Homo sapiens: one gene and its partner. The main gene of each other region encodes a partner of the protein of the gene in region 2 in a complex. Each region holds a gene or a part of one and is shown on either strand. Other genes may lie near its edges. A codon is read from its position in the direction of its gene.

Region 1 (3,600 bases), on a different chromosome or scaffold from region 2:
TAAGGAGGCTCTTCGCAGTGGGGTCTCTAACCTCAGGGCTTCTTAATGGACCTCCCAATTCATGCATGCACACCCAGGCATGTGCCCCACACCCCAAACCCCAAGTCCATGCACTCACACCCAGCATGCGCCCATTGCTCTCACACCCCTTCACTCACCCCATTGGGCCTGACTTTGCACTCGGGTTTCTTCCAGTCCCTCTTCCGGCAGCTTGTCTGCTGCAGCTTAAATTCCAGCCTCACAAATATTCCAGCTGGGAAGGGCTGCGGACAGACAGGCAGGCAGAGGATGGCCGGTAGCCAGCTGAGGGTGCAGAGCAAGCCCTGGTGTGATCCGCACCTCCCTCACGCAGTCACATTCCAGCAGGCTGGACAGTGGCCTTTTCTCCAAAGGGCTGGGGCTCAGAGCCCAAGCACTTCTGTCCCCCTTCGTGGGAATGCGCTGGTCTCCTGGGGTACGACCCTCCCCGCTCCTGCCCGGGCCATGCTACTCACCGTGTCCACGGCGCTCTCCACACTGGTCTCCTGGAAGGCCCACTGCACGGGCGGGTGCTTGTGAAATTCCTCCAGGGCCACCTGCAGGCCCCGGCGCTGGGCTTCCGTGAGCTCGGCGACGCCCACGCCCACCGCACCCAGCCACAGGGCCAGAGGGATCAGCAGCCGTCGCATGCTTCCGTGTCACCCTGGCCCTGCGAAGCGGGTGTGCGCCCCTCAGCTCTCCGAGCCAGCCCGAGCCGCCTCCTCCCGCGCCCTGCTCTGGGGGGAGGGTGGGGAGCGGGGGCGGGGTCCAGGCCTGTAGAACGCTGGGCACAGGTGAAGGAGCCTGGAAATGGCCCTTTCTCCAAATTGACCTTAGGGTCCGCCTGGCCCTCTCCGTTCCCTCCCACCCTGCCCGCGCTGTTCCCTGGGGCCTGCAGTTTTAGCAAAGTTCCCTGCCCACGCTAGGAATCAGTCAGTTCGCACTCCCACCCTACACCCCTAATCTTGCCCATTGTGTCTCTCCCTGGGTCTCCGGCACGACCCACTCTCCTCCCTGCCGTCCCCGGAGCCCCTCTCTCCTTTCCCCGCTCAGCCTTCTCCCCAACCGCTACTCCCTCCCCGTCCAGAATCCCCCTGCTCCCACGGGGTTCCCCCCACGTCCCCGAGGTCCAGGCCAGCCGGGGGAAGGGGCAGGGGCCGGAGGCCGAATACTTTTGGGAGGACCTAAACACGTGGGAGGGTCCGGACGGGTGGGAGCGGCGGGAGGCCTAATCCTCCCGGCGCGGGGGCTGCCGCGGGCCACCAGCCAGCCCCAGTCGCTAGGAATGGGGGTCTCGCGCCGCCCAGCCCTTGGCTTTCCCGCTTCAGGCAAAATCTTCCCTCCTTCCTCTTTTTTCTGGGGCCTTCCCCACGACCCCTCTTCCTAGCCCTTCTGATCCGTCCCCTGATGCATGACTGGGGCCACCGGAGGGGCTGACCCTCCCGGAGAGCCCCGTCGGTCCTGGTGGTCTTGGGACCGGAGAGCGACAGATGTGGAAACCGAGGCCCCTCAGTGAAGAGCTGCCAGGGTGGTCGCCTTAGAGCAAAGGCGTTCCTCATTCCGCCTGCGCAGCTGCCCCTCCGCCCGGCTGCCGCCCCAGCCCGCTTCCCCTCCTCACGTCCTTCCCTGCGCCTGGAGGTCTCCCCTGACCGTCCCGCAGCTGAAATCTTGGCCTCGCTGTCCGCCTCTTCCCGCTCTTCTTCTCGCGGGGCGGCCCCCACCTCCTCCCACCCCCACCTCCTGGACCCCCTCCAGCAACTCTGGCTCCTCCCCTCCCCAGTGGGACCGGCCTCTGGGGCGGGATGCCCTCCCGCGCCCTCCCTCCCCATCCCACCCCCCTCCTTCCCCTCGATCCAGCCCTCATGACCCTGACCCTGGCCGCGGCTGCAGGCGGCTCGCCCAGGCGCGCAGCCCTCGGTCCCACCTCCCTCTGGCTCGGGCCTGAGCATTCCGCAGCCTCGGCCGGCCCGGGCCTCTTCTCCGCTGCTCTGCTCCCCCAAGGACTTTCTGTGCCCCACTCCTACCCAGGCAGGGCTGCCCTGTCTTGGGTCCTTTACGGGGGACCATTCCCCAGCGTCCCTGAGACACTCATCCTGGGATTTCTTCCCCTAAATACAGACATTCTCAAACCAAATGAGACCTCGAGGTCCCTACACCTGATCCTGCCTCCCACTCCCTGAGCCACACTGAGAAGGAAGGTCTCTCCTTTAGGGAGGACTCTGGCGCCTGCAACCTTGATCGACAGCAAAGATGTCCAGTGTGTATCCTGCATCTGCCTTTCCTGACCATTCCTCGTGCCCCATTCTCCGTGGGATAGATTCTCATGGGGAGTGGGGGAGCCTTCGGGTGTGGCAGAACGGCATGATGGAATTCATAAGGTGAGCAGAAACTCAAGGAAAACTGTCCAAATACCGGCTCGACTCCTGGGTACGCTGGAGCAAGGATGAAGAAGCTCTGAGACTTTGCACGTCAGTAACCACCAACACCATGCCTCTGGTTCCCACACCGCAGGGATCACCTGAAGTAGAGGATCTCATGTAACTTCATGGCTCTCTCTGAACTTCTGTTTCTTTATCTGTAAGATGGGGATCAGAAACTCTGTCTTAAGGAGTTGTTTTGAGGATTAAATGAAGAAACATGAAAAGCAACTGATGTCCAGTGCCGAGCACAAGGCTTTTGTCCCCTACTTACGCACCCCTAACCAGGATTCTCCACTTAGAGCTGAGAATTTCCTTTACAGTGTGCTCTGGGGGCACCAGAAAGAAACTCGGCTTCCATTAACCACTTCCAGGTGTCTGAAATCCCACCACTACTTAGGGTACTTCACTCCCCAGCTGTGAGCTACTCAGCCGCCCTTAAGCAGAAAGAGATGGGATCCGTGTTCCCTGAAAGCTTTAGATGGGGTTAGAGAGAAAAGATGCACCCAAAGATGTTTCCCAGCCCAAGAACTTGAAGGAAACCAAAATATTTCACCCCAAAAAATACTTCTTTGACACATTTCAAGGTGGCTGTTCAGAATGGTTGGAAATAGAATAACCAAAAAGCTGTCTTTTTGTGGAGAGATTTGCATCTGTAGAGGAAATCTGCATTGATGTAGCCAGGCTTTCTCCGAGGCTCTCCCTTGTCTAACTCTAGGAAAGATTAACTGAGAGGCTGACACCTTTACAGATCTGAAAGAAACATTTACCCTCAGTTCTTTCTGAGGGCTGCTACCTGTGAGGTGTCATCTACCTAACAAGACTCCCTTTGCCAACCAGGCCTCCTCTTCCCTCCCTTCCATAACCTGTCTTGCCACTATCTGAGCCCCCATATTTGTATAAACTCAAGATGGTGGATAAGCTTCTGTATCCCACTGAGGGGTTGGGGTAATCACTTTGTGGTTCTCTCTCATGTATGTTAATAAATATTTCCTGTTAAAGCCGAGGCAGGAGGATTGCTTGAGCCCAGGAGTTCAAAGGTGCAGTGAGCTCTGATCATGAAACTGTACTTCAGCCTCTCTGGACAGAGCAAGACCTTGTCTCTAAAATATAAATGAATCAATTTATTCTATTAATCTGCCTTTCATCAGTTGATTTTTCAGCA
Region 2 (3,941 bases):
AAGGGTTTGTGTTTCTAACAAACTTCTGGGTGAGGCTGCTGGGGTTGGTATGGAAACTAGACTTTAGGAACCTCTGGTCTCTATTAGATGGTGATATACAAGATCCCTGCCACGTTATGGAAATATCCTCTCCTTTCACCAGGAGAACCTGGGGAATGACATGATTTGGCTTTGTGTCCCGACCCAAATCTCATCTTGAATTGGAATTCCATAATCCTCACGAGTCATGGGAGGGACCAGGTGGGAGGTAATTGAACATGGGGGTGGTTTTCCCCCCATCCTGTTCTCATGATAGTGAGTGAGTTCTCATGAAATCTGATGGTTTTATAAGAGGCTTCCCCCTTTGCCTGGCACTCATTGTCTCTCCTGCCACCCTGTGAAGAGGTACCTTCCATCATGATTGTAAGTTTCCTGAGGCCTCCCCTGCTATGCGAAAATGTGAGTCAATTAAACCTTTTTTCTTTATAAATTACCCAGTCTTGGGTATTTCTTCACAGCAGTGTGAGAACGGACCAATACAATTACTAACTTCTGGGTGACCTTGGGTGAGTCCCTTGCCTCCTCTGGGTTCAGTGTTCTCATCTGTACAGTAAGTGTTTCGATATGATGTTTTGTTCCCTAGATAAGCCCAAAGAAGAAGAGAGCAAGGAAGACAGTTGGGTAGACTGGGCCTGACTTCTGACTATAGAGACCTGTGTGACCTCAGGCAAGAGACTCAATCTCTCTGGGCTTCAAGTTATCTGTGAAATGGAAGAATGAAATTAGATGGTTTCTAAGTGTAAAGCTCACTGAATTAAAGGATTGAGGATGGTGGGGAGAGGTCGGTGGGGTTCTAAGGCTGATCAGACGATGAGGACATAGTCCTCCACCTGCCCAAGACTTTGAGGCCCAAAACACAGGTTTCTCTCCTTCTCTCCCTCCCTCCCCATCTCCCTCTCCCTTCACCTTCCCCTCCTCCCCATTACCTTCCTCCCTGCCCTCCCTTTTCTTCCTTTCTTTCTTCTCCTCCCTTCCCCTCTCTTCCCCTCCCCTGCCCTTCCCTTTTCTTTTTCTTTCTAAAAATATTATTTTAGGCAGTCGTAGGCAGTCTTGGCTTTGGAATCAGACAGACTCAGATCCAGCCATGGCTCGGTCAGCATGAGCTTGGCGCCCTGGGCAAAACGACTTCTGCTCTGTGGCCCTAGCATCCTCATGTGTAGAATGGGCAAGTGATGCCCCCCCGACGTGGGTGGTGGTTCACACGGCTTACTCCATGGAAGCACTTGGCACAGGGGCCCACATGGGCACTTCTGTTATTTCTTCAGTCTGGAGGCCAAGGGTGGGCCTCCGAGCCAGACAACATAGTTGGAATCCCAGCTCTGTCAGCTGCTGGCGGTGTGGTCTTGAGCAAGTGACTTAATCTCTCTGTACCCCAGTTTCCTTATTGGTAAGACTGGAGTAGTAATAATTCCTGTTATCTAGGGTTGCCGTGAAGAGTAAGTACGCATCGCCTAGCACGCTGCCTGGCTGTCGGTTGTTTTGATTATTCCACTAATGATGGTGACCACACAGCCGATGAACCAGGCACTTAGCGCCTGGTTAGGGCAGGGAACAGAATACAGTTCTTTCCCTACAGAGTTCCTGGTGCAAGGAGTTCTCGGTGCAAGGAGAGAGACATCTTAACAGGCAAGGACAGCACTGCATCAGTGAGGTGATGGGGTGACCCTGAGGGGCACAGCAGCCCCCGAGGGTTGGGGAAGGCTTCCCTGGGAGGTGACCTTCAACCTGAGACCTGAAGAGGCAGTAGGAGACCATCGGGCCACGAATTAGGGCAGGAATAGCATCCAGGTGGGAGGAACAGCGTTGCAAAGGCCCAGGGTGAGAGGCAGCCAATCTCTCGGTCAGTGTGGAGCTTGAGCCCCTCACCGGGAGCAGAGGCGCTTGCACTTCCCCCAGCAGCCGGGTGCTCAGATGTGCTCCCTGTTTGCGCTCAGTGGGCACGGCTCCCCGGCTGCAAGAGGCTGCCAGAGGGGCGGGTCGTCCCCAGCGGGCCCCCGCCGCCACCCACAAGCCCAGTCCCCGGCTGGTAGGGGCACCCTCCCCTCGCAGCCCCCTCTCCACGCAGCTAGCCGCCCCCGCCCTAGGTCAGCCCAGTTTCCTGCCCCTCCCTCCTGCTCTCCTCCCTCCAGCTGTTTCTCTGGCTGAGTTCTGTCCCAGTCCCATTCAGGGAAGCAGCCCCGGCGGCCAGCAGGGAGCTCAGGACAGAGCAGGCTCCCTGGGAAGCCTCCGGGTGATAGGGGTGTTCCAGCTGCGGCGCTCTGGGGGTTCAGAGGGGGATCTTGAATGAACAAATGAATGAACTGCTTTCTGGGCAAACAGCCACAGCCAGAGGAGCCTGTGATTGGCAGAAAGAAGCCAGGGTGTGCAAGTCTCCCCAACAGCCTCGAGTGGCCTGCAGTCACAGGGAACCCTCAGGAAGACCTTCCGGGCAGAGACCAGAGGGAAGGTATCATCACACACTTGCCTTGGGTGTCTTCTGAGGGGGGCCAGGGAAGGGGAATGAATACTAACAGAGAGAAAAGTTTGTTTCTTTTTATAATTTCATATTTGTTAAAAGGAAGAGTTTTGTTATTATTTTCAGATGTCAAAAGTAATGCATGTTCATTGTTTAAAGAAATAGCAAGGATACACAACTAAATATATGAATGTGGATTTCCACATCTAGTTTGGTAACCTGCTTAACCACAGATTGTGAACTTTTTTCCATATCACCTATATTCTTCCAATATACATTTTTCATGGCTGCATAGAAAGGCTATCTTAAGATTATTTGACTTTTCCATAATAGATTTGCTTCTTTTTTTTTATTAGAACAGTGCTGCAATGAATATTTAGTATGACATCTTTGTGTGTGTGTCTTATGAATACCTTTTAGAAATTGCTAGATTTAAGGTTTGCCTATTTTTAAGACTTCTGAGCTTTTGGTCACACTGCACCCTGGAAGGCCGTGGCAGCTTGACCTCTCTACGATGTTATACCAGGGCACAGTATTCTCACATACTAAACCCACCTTGTTGCTACCCATCCCTTAAACTTTCCCTGATGTGAAGTCGAGAATAATATCTAGATGCTTCAATAGGCATTTCATTTCTTTGTTAGTGTTGATTCTCTTTTATAAACTTATTTTTCACATTTCTAGTCTGACTCTCCTGTTCAAGTCTGTTCCCATTTTTTTCTCCTCTGGGGGCATGTTTATCTTTTTCCAATTGATATCTAAGGGTTCTTTGTATATAAAGGACACAAAACCTTTGCCGGCACTCTCTGTTGAAAATATTCCACTCCCTCCTCTGTCTTCAGAATAGCCCATTTTAAATGGGCAAGCCAGCTTTGGCAAAATTATAAGCATTACAACATCAGGGAACTACTACTTGATATAAGCCCAATCACTCAGACCTGTGCGGTTCAGAGATGCCAGATCACTGGTCTGAGGTCACACGCCTGAACGTCCAGGTTCTGAGTCTTTCTTTTTCTATTAGGGAAAGCCCTCAACTTCCCTTTTGCATCCCCTACCTCCTTCTCAAGACCAATCTTCTCTGTGGTTCTTGCTGTATCTCCTGCCCCTTCCAAACTGGTTTGAAGGTAAGATTCCTCTAAATGCCTTGGCTGCTGAGGTGAGTGTGACTGGGTCATTCAGGCCTCTGGTGCAGGAGGAGGCAGCTTGGCCTTTTCTTTAACCTAAACCAGTGGCACTCAAATGATGATGTGTCATACACTTGGGAGGTCCACAGGAGAGTTATCTCTTGATGCACAGGGGCCTTCTTTGGACTCCCCCAAAACTTCAGGGAACAGATAACCTTAACTTTGGGCAAGTCATGCCTTTCTCTGGCTTGACTTGTTCTGAGAAGTCCCCTACCCGCACTGGGTCAGGGCTTGTCTGCTAGGCTCTCCCAGGGCCTATCCCT

What was found. Proteins that work in one complex are often made in the same cells at the same time.
Region 1: the proteins of CMKLR1 (region 2) and RARRES2 are in contact, whole or in part, in a cryo-EM structure (PDB 8ZJG), measured with the Homo sapiens proteins. Residues at the interface, in NP_001135815.1 of Homo sapiens: Asp20, Tyr21, Leu22, Asp23, Ser24, Ile25, Val26, Val27, Leu28, Phe88, Leu92, His95, Tyr103, His104, Asn116, Leu119, Ile120, Met123, Arg178, Leu183, His184, Gly185, Lys186, Ser188, Cys189, Phe190, Asn191, Trp203, Thr205, His217; in NP_002880.1 of Homo sapiens: Leu34 (codon at 569), Phe37 (codon at 560), His38 (codon at 557), Phe60 (codon at 260), Thr75 (codon at 215), Ser76 (codon at 212), Cys77 (codon at 209), Arg96, Leu111, Gly112, Arg113, Leu114, Val115, His116, Cys117, Pro118, Ile119, Thr133, Leu136, Arg137, Gln139, Arg140, His146, Ser147, Phe148, Tyr149, Phe150, Pro151, Gly152, Gln153.

The regions. Positions count from the first base shown.
Region 1 is NC_000007.14:150,339,942-150,343,541, forward strand, and holds the start of RARRES2 (retinoic acid receptor responder protein 2 precursor), read right to left. Parts: upstream 1,689-3,600; 5' UTR 1,637-1,688; intron 689-1,636; 5' UTR 669-688; coding exon 495-668; intron 264-494; coding exon 159-263; intron 1-158. UniProt on the Homo sapiens protein: Adipocyte-secreted protein (adipokine) that regulates adipogenesis, metabolism and inflammation through activation of the chemokine-like receptor 1 (CMKLR1). Also acts as a ligand for CMKLR2.
Region 2 is NC_000012.12:108,337,571-108,341,511, reverse strand, and holds the start of CMKLR1 (chemerin-like receptor 1), read left to right. Parts: upstream 1-2,200; 5' UTR 2,201-2,485; intron 2,486-3,941. UniProt on the Homo sapiens protein: Receptor for the chemoattractant adipokine chemerin/RARRES2 and for the omega-3 fatty acid derived molecule resolvin E1.